2 separate regions of the Homo sapiens genome follow, and region 1 is linked to region 2. Evidence: fine-mapped expression QTL. A gene starts in region 2. The other region holds a variant in brackets. All regions are shown on one strand. Distances are between the middles of the regions. Region 1 has its middle 26 kb from the start of MAT1A. Region 2 holds the start of PRXL2A (peroxiredoxin like 2A).

What was found. PIP is the estimated chance that this variant, and not a neighbour inherited with it, causes the effect. A credible set is the group of variants that fine-mapping cannot tell apart.
Region 1: its variant is the best candidate, but not a certain one, in a credible set for the expression of PRXL2A in whole blood (INTERVAL, PIP 0.71).

The regions. Positions count from the first base shown.
Region 1 is chr10:80,261,208-80,266,581 of GRCh38, reverse strand. No RefSeq gene overlaps it. Among named protein-coding and RNA genes, the nearest start is that of MAT1A, 26 kb to the left of the region's middle. RefSeq lists enhancers at 1,226-1,756, 1,757-2,288. The variant C/T (reference allele first, on the strand shown) is at 3,298.
Region 2 is chr10:80,405,379-80,410,752 of GRCh38, reverse strand. It overlaps PRXL2A (peroxiredoxin like 2A), which reads right to left and starts at 2,202. Exons shown (of 6, transcript NM_032333.5): 1 at 2,110-2,202. RefSeq lists enhancers at 1-408, 1,255-1,848 and a silencer at 2,134-2,423.

The DNA.
Region 1 (5,374 bases), 140 kb after region 2:
CTGGGCCACCAAAGCAGGGCTTCTCTCCTGCCCCAGGGTTGAGGTGGCTGCCTCTGGGGTGTTTGCAGGAGTGCCCACAGAAAGGCCCTGGGACACAAGGCCTGGCTGGGAGGAGCCCCCTCCTTCACAGGCCAAGACTGCAACTGCGGAGCCAGTCACAACAGCCTAAGAGGACAGGAATTCCTTTCCTCGGAGGCTGTCAGAATCCCAAGTGACCAGGAGGAAACAGGCTCTGGCAGGGGAAGACACTTTGGAGGACCACCCACTCAGAGAGCAGATTGTGTCCGTGGGCAGGATGGGAGCTAAGAGTGGGAGCCGGCTGGATCTCCCTCCACTTCCTCGAGATCTGCCCAGGACACTGCCTGGTTCCCGCTGCTCTGGAGGGACTGTTCCCGGGCTGTGAAGTCCTGGGATCCCGCTGTTCCTTTAGTTCTGAACAGTGTATTCTCCAGCAGGAGGGGCAGCCCTGGACTCCCAGGCTCTGTGCAGGCTTCCCAGAAGCCTCTCTGGGAGGAGTGGGGGCCACTGCCTTCCACTTCCCGTGGCAGCCCCTGGCCCTGGCCTCCTCCAGGGCTCTGCAACCCTCTTCAGGCCCCCTGGCATGGTATCCATGCCCTCCTCGGGAGAGTAAGTGGGGTGGGATGAGGTGGAGGCCGCGACCTGTATAGACAACCCAGGGCTGTTCCATCTTCACCCTTGGGCGAAAAGTAGCCCAGCAGCAGCTTCAGGGCCCCACCTCCCAACCCCCACCAGGCCGACCCCACTCCCACTTCCTGGGCTGCCCCGCCCCTCCCAGCAGGCATGGCCAGCTCTCTCCACCTCTAGCACTGAGCTCTACAAAGCAGCTCTGAACTTAGTTCTCTTCTATGTCTTTGGTTTTCTGTTTGATCTCATCTTTAATTGTATATTTCTGCTCCTCTCTTAAAAGAAAGGAAAGAAGCCATTTTTTTTTGTTTTTGGATTTTTGCATCAAAGCCTTCACAGTTTCTAAGACATTTTAATTCGTTTTGATCTCATTTCTGTTTCTCTGCTTTCCTTGTGTTTCTTTTCCATTTTTAACTTTCTGAACTGAATGTTGGTTTTGGTGGCTTTTTGATCCAAAATGGCTTATGGGGGAGTCATAAAATTCCTATGTGGCTGTTTTTCCTCAATTTTTCACTCATTTCTAGTTTCATTGACACGTTATTAATAGAAAATAATCTCTATTATTTGTACTTTCCAAACACATTTTTGAGATTTTCATTGTAGTCCAAAATGATGAATTTTAGTGTTATATGATCACCTGATGTTATCAGTGTATAGATTTGCATTTATTTCAATTTGTTAAATATTTAAAATTATATAATATATACATGTATATTTTTAATTATATATTTCAGGTATTTTGTGGACAGGGATTTTAAGCTTTCCTTAGGGAAGCAACTGACAAGAGAGAACAAGAAAGTGTGAATTCTGAGGAAGGGCAAGGGATGGTTTTGGGCCTCATCACTCACTCACTCACTCACTCACCTGTTCCTTCCTTCCGCGGCATTCCTTCCCTCCTTCCACTGAGAACCAAGCCGCCCCAGGCCCGCCCCGGACCCCTGGGGCCTGCGGTAAGGAGTGCAGTTATTTTGTGTGGACATATGTGCTCCACGCCAGCAGCCGGAGGAAGCCTTCCAGGCAGAGAGAACAGGGAGCGCTCAGGATGGGGAGAGTGCTCTGGGGCCACAGGAGGGGGTTCAGCAGAGGGCAGGGTGGAGGGTGTGATTCTATTGTCGCTGTGCCCCCACGCCTCTCCAGTGATAGTCTGCCCTGTTGCCAGGCACGGGTGTGGTTCTGGGCAGACCGTGGTCAGTGGTCTCAGTGTTTCGGCCCAGCTGGCCATGGTGGCTGCAAGAAGCTCTGCAGCAGCCTGGGAAATGGGGGAGGACCTTCAGCCTCGCGTGAGCTGCTTTATTGGTGAACCCAGCAGACTCCATGGAGCTTGAGGCAGAAGCAGGTGAGCACAAGTTTTGCTCGGCCTGGATCACCCTGGGAGGTGGTGAGGGTGTCATGGTATGCGTGTGGTGAAAGTTCTCTTGTTTTTGACAGACTTGTTTAACCAGGGGATGAAAGACATTCTGTGCAGAGATCAGGGACGTGCCACTGCAGTCCAGCAGTAGTTCAGTGGAATGTAAAACCCTCACCGAGTTTCACCTCGAGACAGAGGAGGTCAAAGCCCAGGAGTGCCTGCTGCCCTGGATGGGTCCAGCTTGTGATCTGGAGTTACAGAAGGTGACTTGAGGCTCTTGAAGAAAAGCTGGAGGGAACTGTTTCTTATTCTCAAAGCCAGATTCTGTGTCTCGAATGGAAACTCATGATCATTGGTGGAGAGCATGGGAGGCTGAAAGAAACCTCATCATCTCCAGACAAGAGGCACAGTCCCGAGGCAAGGAAAACGGACACAGTGATTCCCCGAGTTTCTGGACATGGATCCTCAAGCAGCTGATAACCCAGATGGAGCGTGATTGGGGGCATTTGCCCTCTGACCTCCAGGCGTGGACGCAGCCTCCTCTGACACTCCCCTCCCTTTATACCCCACCTCAGCTGCCAGCCTTTCCTCTGCCCTCTTCCCCTCCATTCCCAGAGCCTATGTTTCCAGTGAACTCAAATGTGGAGTTCATGGGAAGGAGACATCCTCTTCTGTCCCCTTCTCCAGGAAGCCTGGGTGAACTCCTGAGCCAGCTTCCATGAAGGGCTGCTTTCCTCCTTATCCCCACTCAGGGGCTGGAGCCCCCACCCAGAAAATGGGAAAGAGTTGCTTTCTGGCTTCTCATTGAGCCACCACATGATCCTGCCAGTCCAAATGCCCAATTACCACCAGGCCCTACATAATTTCTCAAATTTTCCCAAATGTATTTTTGAATTATTTATGAGGGGGCTTCAAAAAGTTCATGGAAAATGTGTATTATGAAAAAACTGTGCATGGACTTCAAATTTTTTTTACACCAAAATAAACTCACACTAACTTGTTATAATATTTCTGAATAGGGTCTAGTTTGAGGCACTGAGAAGGATCAGAGATTGGCTTGATAAGAGCACCTACCAGAGCAACATGAATTCTGTGAAAATTGAAGTAAAAACAAACATTAAATTCATGGTGAAGCTTGGGTGGAAGAATGGTGAAGTCATGGATGCTTTACCAAAAGTTTATGGGGACAACATCCCCCCCCCCAAAAAAATCAGCAGTTCACAAATGGAAAACACATTTTAAGAAAGGAAGAGATTTGAGACCAGCCTGGCCAACATGGTGAAACCTCATCTCTTCTAAAAATA[C/T]AACAATTAGCTGGGTATGGTGGCATGCACCTGTAATCCCAGCAACTTGGGAGGCTGAGGTAGGAGAATCACTTGAACCCGTGAAGCAGAGGTTGCAGTGAGCTGAGATCATGTCACTGCACTCCAGTCTGGGTGACAGAGCAAGACTCCATCTCAAAAAAAAAACAACAACAAAAAAAAACCACAAGATTATGTGGAAGATGAAGTCCACAGCGGTAGACCATCCATATCAATTTGTAAGGAAAAATATTCATCTTCTTCATGCCATAATTGAAGAGGATCAATGATGAACAGCAGAAAAAGACCCAACACCATGGACAGATCAACTGCAGACAGGAGGGGAGATTTAGATGAAAATTTTAAACAAGTGGGATTAAGATCCTGAAGCATTTCTTCAAAGAATTGTAACAGGAGATGGAACTTGGCTTTCCCAGTACAATGCTGAAGACAAAGCACAATCAGAGCAATGGCTACCAAGAAGCAGAGGTGACCTAGTCACAGCAAAAGCAGACAGGTGAAGAGCAAAGGTCAGGGCAACAATTTTCAGTGATGCTCAAGGCATTTTGCTTGTTGACTTTCTGGAAGGCCAAAGAACAGTGACATATGCTTATTACGAGTGTTTTGAGAGAATCACAGCTTTAGGAGAAAAATGCCCAAGAAAGCTCCACCAGAGAGTTCTCTATCATGACAATGATCCTGCTCATTCCTCTCATCAAACAAGGTCAATTTTGCGAGTTTCAATGGGAAATCACTAGGTATCCACCTTACAGTCCTGATTTGGCTCCTTATGACTTCTTTTTGTTTCCTAATCTTAAGAAATTATTTAAAGGAGACCCGTTTTTCTCCATTTAATAATGTAAAAAAGACTGCCTTGACATGGTTAAATTCCCAGGATCCTCAGTTCTTTGGAGATGGACAAAATGGACGATATCATCACTTACAAAAGTGTCTTGACCTTGATAGAACTTGAGAGAAATAAAGTTTATATTTTTTATTCTTGTCTTTTAATTTCATTTTCCCACAAACTTTTAAAAGTCCCTTATATTTGTTTTTAATTTAAAAGCCTCTTTTATATGTGCTTTACTTTTCCTCAAATGATACATCAATAGTATTATACATATATGAATAAAATTTGGTAAATAATGGTTATTTAAATTATTCTCATTATAAGTTCTAGAAAACAGAAGGAGTTAATTTTAATTTTATGATGTAGTCCATTATTTCCAAAACTATGCTATTATCTGGGAGCATTTCGACCACCAGAAACATTTGAAATATCAGAACACTTCCTCTCTGCCAATGCTTCTGTGTTGCTCAGTGATAAGACAACAGTGGAGGCTAGTTGTCAGTCTCCATAAATGTAAAAGAATGGTTTGACTGTGCTGACATTCTAAAGGGTAGGTGGCTCCTGGTCTGGGCCCAGCAGGGCTGCTGCCCCCTGGCTGTAAGGGTCCTGGCCAGAGCTGGACTGAGCTTAGCTGTTCAAGGCAATGAGAGGTTGGTACAGGCTGGGATTCCTCTTCACCAGCGCATCTGGCTTACTGGGCCCTCAGATTCTTCATTTGGGGTAAAAAGCCTGCCCCAGTGTCATCACCATCTGTACAATGCGTGTGCTAAAGGCCTCAGGGCAGCCTGGGCGAAGCGCTGGGGTGTCTGCAGCTTGAGGACTAGGGGTTGGGATGCCATGCTGAGCCAGGATCAAGCCTGCCCAGGGATAGATATGCACACCTTATAGGTAAAAAGCAAGGCTGGATCCTCAGGGTGATATAGTGAGCAGTCCTAGGACCTGAGGTTCAGACCAGGTCCACCTTGCAGTGTGAAAGGCCAGGTGAGCCTGACCAGGCTGGGCCTGGTCCGTAACTGTGGTCATTGTGGACCGAACACACTCTGGCATCTTCAGGGAAACCTGAACAGAGATTCTGGGGTCAGGGGGAACAAGGTTTGAAGCAGGCTCTAGAATCTTCAGGCCATGCGACTTCTGAAAAGCTGTGGAACCTCACTGAGCCCCAGTTTCCCTAGCTGTTACAAGGGAATGAAGATGGACCGTGCCTTGCAGTGAGCTTGGGAGGGATATGGT
Region 2 (5,374 bases):
CACAGAAGACACTGGGCTAAAAGCCAATAATCCTGGGTTTTCTCTCTTTGACTCTGAGAGTTATTTTATCCCTCTGAACCTCAGTGTCTTCTTAAAAACAAGGGCACTTTAAAGAGTTGTCATAAAGATTATATAAGAAGAGCAATTTTTAATGCGGTAACGCACTAGAAAACGGCAAAGCAGCATTATCTTTCTCTCTTTTGCAGGGCTCAGATTCACTCGTGCCCCTATAAAGACAGGATATCTGAAGCAGGACAGGCACAAAATAGTGAACTTCTGCAGCTGTGTCACTGCAGGCCTGCTTTCTGGTGAACGTTCTAGGTCTGGTGGGAACACTGGCTTGTCTCAGCCCCTCTGGCCTGCAGGCCCGCTCCATGCTATTCCTGTAGCAGCTAACACTGCCTCCTGCACTAGCAGTGCCAGAGAAGGCAAAGGACACTGCCCAGCTGTAATTTCCCTGTGCCAGAGGCCACTGAGCTCAAAGGTGAGGCTGGCTCTCTGCACAGAACCTCAGGATGGTTCTTGCCACACAAGCCACAGCAGAGAGACTTGGAGCTTCTGCTCAACATTTCACAAAGAAGCAAGAACCCAACTGGCAGGACAGCTGCCCTATTGCTTAGATAGGGACAGAGCCTGGGGCTTGAGCCCTAGAGTTCCAGTCCTATCCAAACTTTCTGAGCACCATTTAAATGACACGAGATGAGAAAATCATCAGAAATGTCTTTTGTACCCCTTCAGAAGTAATGCAGAAGGTCTCAACTAAATGACATGCTCTTATAAAAGACGGGGATATAGGAAAGGCCCACACCAAGAATAATATCTAACTTTAATTCTTGCAAGCTGTATAAACCTGGACAAGGAACTGTTTTGCATCAGTAAAATGGGAATGCTTCCTTAATTACCTTCTACAGAGTTGCAAGAATCAAAGGATTAAATGTATAGGAGGTGCCTTGTGAGGTACCTTACAAAAAGTGCAATAAATACGATGTATAATTCTTCATTTCTAGAGCAATGATTACCCTCAAAACGTTATTTGTACACAAAATGAAGAGTTTTCTGATGAATGAGTATGGTAACGAGTCGGGGTCTGCAGTGGAAATCCCAATCCTCATTCTCCAAAGCTGGGCCCGAGCAGGAGCATTCAAGACTATTCAAGCTGACTTTTTCACAATGCTTTTCAAAACAAATCTTGATTATTTTCTTTTTGAAAAACCACCTGCCAGGTTCAAAGGAAAATACATTAAAATAAAACAAACAAAAAAGCTGAGTTCTGGGTTGCTGGGCTGTGCAGACAGCATGATGTGGCAAGGAAAAGAGGCGCAGGAGCAGCTGGGAACCCCGGTCCGGCAGTGGACTCCCGGGTGTGCCTCCTTCCCACAGCCCTGGACCGGCTGGGCCTTGACTTCCCTTCCTTTGCCTCTAACCATCTCCACCTGCGCCTTCACCTCCCGCTCCAGCAACAACCCTGGGGGCAGATTGTTCATCTTTTCATTCCTAGACCTCAGCAGGGCTGTTAAGTTTACAACTGGGCTCTACCCAATTTAAAGTCAGGCGTTTGTGACTCTTGGGAAAGAGGGGGAACAGGTGCCTCCGAAACGCTGAACAACGCTAGAAACCGTGCCCTCTTAAAAGACACGACCCTAAGCGGGCACAGAGACGAGGACGAGGACTGCCAGGTCCGCACCTGGGGCTGGTCCAGCAGGGCGGCCCCCGGGCCCATGCTCCAGGGCAGGGCCCTCTCCTCTGTTCTTTGTCCCAACAATTCGCGAAGGTTGGCGCCACCGGCGTCACTCAAGGCTTGCGGGCGTGGACAGAGGGGGCCCTAGCCCGCCGCAGCAGCGCCGGGTCCCCGTCTCCGTTCTCCGACGTCTGGGCGCAGGGTTTTTCCATCGGCCGCCACGCAGGGTGGCGGAAGGGTCGTCGTCCTCGGAGGGAGCGCCAGCGCTGCGGCGGCTCCTAAGAAAGTTGGCGCGGGCCCGAGGGGCGCGCCTCACCAGCCCAGCACCCACCCTACCGGCCCTGCACTGCCTCAGTTTCCCCACCTACGCCGCGGCAGGCCCCGCCTACGGACATCACGTGCCTCGCGGAGCCCCGGCGCGCAGCACCTACCTCAAGTGCCTCCCTTCTGCCGGCCTTTTACCGCCCCGACGCCCGGGCGCTAAGGGGCCAAACCGCCCGGCCCGGAGGGTCCCAGGGGCGGGCCCCGCGCTTGCGCAGCCTCTAGCCTGTGCTGCATCGCGCGCTACCGCGCCACCGCCATGTGACCCGCCCCGCCCCCCGTGGGAGGAGCTCCGGGCCTGCCCCCGACTCGCCGACCTCCGGGCCGCGGTCTCCTAGCTCCGGTGGCGCTCGGGCGTGTGCCCCAGCGGTCCTTTTACGCACAGCGCTCGGTCGGTCCACTCCTCAAGTCCGCGAACCGAGGCCCCGACGCGTTCTTCAGGGCGCTGCCTAGGGCAAAAGAAGGCGCTGGACACCCCTAATGGAGCCTGGAAGCACCTGTCCTGCAGCCGAGGCTGGCCAACTTCCTTCCAATCTTCAGCCTGGTTTTGAATAGCTCTTTTGATAGGTTTTTTTTTTTTTTTTAACCTCCATGGGCAGGGGGAATCTAAAGGACCGACACATTCGATGAGCCCCTTCAAGCTGTATGTACAGATTCAGAATTTCCAACCTCAATCCTCCACCCACGTTCCCTTTCACTCCACAATGCCAGCTATGGGGCAGAGAACGGTGAGCCGCAGCCTTGCGGACTCCGGGCGACGCTGAGGCGGGTGTGTCACACACCGCTCATCCACTTACTCCTCCTGTTGGAAGTGCCCACTCTTTCATGAAAGTAGGAGGTTGTGTCCGGCGCGCTGGCTCACGCCTGTAATCTCAGGGCTTTGGGAGGATCGCTTGAGCCCAGGAGTTCAAGACCAGTCTGGGCACCATAGTAAGACTCCATCTCTACGTAAAAAACAAAAACTAGCCAGGCATAGTGGCGCGTGCCTGTATTTCCAGCTACTCTGGAGCTGAGGTGGGAGGATCGCTTGAACCCGGGAGGCGGAGGTTGCAGTGAGCCCAGATCGCGCCACTGCACTCCAGCCTGTCTTTAAAAAACAAAAAAAAGACCCTGTCTTAACAACAAAAAACAAAAAGTAGGAGGTTGGACTTTCAGAGACAGCAGAGCTGACTCACGATACATATTAGTGGTTGGCCGGGCTCGGTGTCTCATGCCTGTAATCCCAACACTTTGGGAAGCCAAGGCGGGCAGATCACTTGAGGGCAGGAGTTCGAGACCAGCCTGACCAACATGGCAAAACCTCGTCTCTACTAAAAATACAAAAATTAGCCGGGTGTGGTGGCGCGCACCCGTAGTCCCAGCTACTCAAGAGGCTGAGGCAGGAGAATAGCTTGAACCCCGGAGGTGGAGGTTGCAGTGAGCCGAGATGGTGCCACTACACTCCAGCCTGGGTGACAGAGTGAGATTCCGTCTCAAAAAAAAAAAAAAAAGACATATCGGTGACACAGTGCAAAGACCAGTCACAGGGCAGCATAAGGTGAAGTGGCAAAGCAGGCCGATGTCCGCCCGTCAAAGGTGGTCATTTGCCTGCAACACCTTCCCCCCTTCATCTGGGAGCTGCCCACAGGTGTACAAAGTCCAAAGGCTTCCGTGATTCACCTCCCTGACTTCCCACTCAGACTCCATGTTCCATGTAAACTTACAGCAACACTTGGGGAGCTTGATCTATTCAAGGGGGTCTCTCCTCAACCAAACTGTGAATTCCTCCACTTCACCTCTGGGACCCTAGAGCCTGGCCCAGGGACAGCGTGGAAATAAACTTAGAAAACGTGAGAGGTGGATCTAAGTTGTGGGGTAAGGGAGATCAGCCTGAGTGCCCATGCAGTTTTCCTGCAGGAGTTAGGCATATGATTTGAAGGCCAGAAAATATTTCGTATACTTTGGTGCAATGCGGGTGTAGTTTTATATATATATATATATATATATATATATATATGATATATAAGATATATATAAGATATATATGAGATATATAAGATATATATGATATATGTATAAGATATGTATGATACATATATCTCTCTCCAGAGGACCTTTCTTTCTTCTCCCTTGTTTCTCCTTACCTTGTGAAGAGGAGCGGGAGAAGGGTCAATCTTTCCATCCCAAAATAGGAAGTTCAAAGGTGAGGAGGGTTTGCAGGGAAGGCCACTTAGAACAAAACAGGAAGTCATTTCCTTGGGAAATGAGTTCTTGGAGACTGACCATTAATGACAGAGCCATTCAGGGGTTGAGGATAGCAGAATTCTGGGGTGGAAGGTCCCCTGAGGCTTTAACTGTGATGTAATTACTAATCACGTGCAAAAGTCATGCTTATATTTACACTTCGGTAACATCCTGAAGATCTGGACTTCAAAAACCAGGCTACATCTGATAGCTAATTAATATGCTCCTCACATGCCCACGTTTCTTTTTGTACAAGAAAGCACAGGCTGAACTCATTAAAAAACAGTCATTAGACCAGAAAAATAAGTTACAGGCAAGCAGGCGCAGGAAAACTTATTTACAAAGCTCAAGGACTAAAACCAAAAACCAAACCAAAACAAAAAACCTGAAGAATAAACCAAGAAAACCCACCAACCTGCCCAGCTTTTAAGAGAAAAATAATTTAAATTTTGTAAAGATTGTAAAATAGCCTTAGGTTCTGAATTTCAGGTGGTAGAAATTAAGGTTGACTAGAAGCTTTGTGATAACTTTAGATAATGTTACCATCTTGACAGGGGCTGGGAAACTTTTCTGTCCCTCACAAGTCCCATAGGGCAGGCAGAAAACACTGCTTGCAGGAGGCAGATCTGGGTAAAGACTCCTGACTTTTTCAGCGTCATAGCACTTCTAGATTCAGCTGGCTTCAGCTTCGTCTGCTACTCAGCAGTGACTGAAGTAACATGATCTTTTTAAGCTTATGGCCCTGTGGTGTCTGGGCTCGCTGGGAACAGTCAGGAAGCAGCTAGCATCAAGATGAAAATAGAGCAAAAACTGATACTTCACTTCAATATGTCAGGCCCAGGTTACCATTCTGTGGATGGGTAAAAGCGAAATCAAGAACAAGACTTGTATGTGAATCTCAAAAATAGATGTGCATAGATCAGCTTCAAATATTTTCTCTATATGCCAATATCCCTGAATTCAGCTCTTTCTTATTTGTTTTAAGCATAAAAAATCCTATACTTCCACAGTGTGTCTCAAAGCAAAGCAAAGTCAATAGGGACCTCTTTCTAAAACCTTCCATAAATGTGGCCAATGGTTTACCAGGTGAACCGATGGCTGACTGAGGGCTAGATGGTGGTATTATTCTGCCCCCAGGTTGAGAAAGCAGGA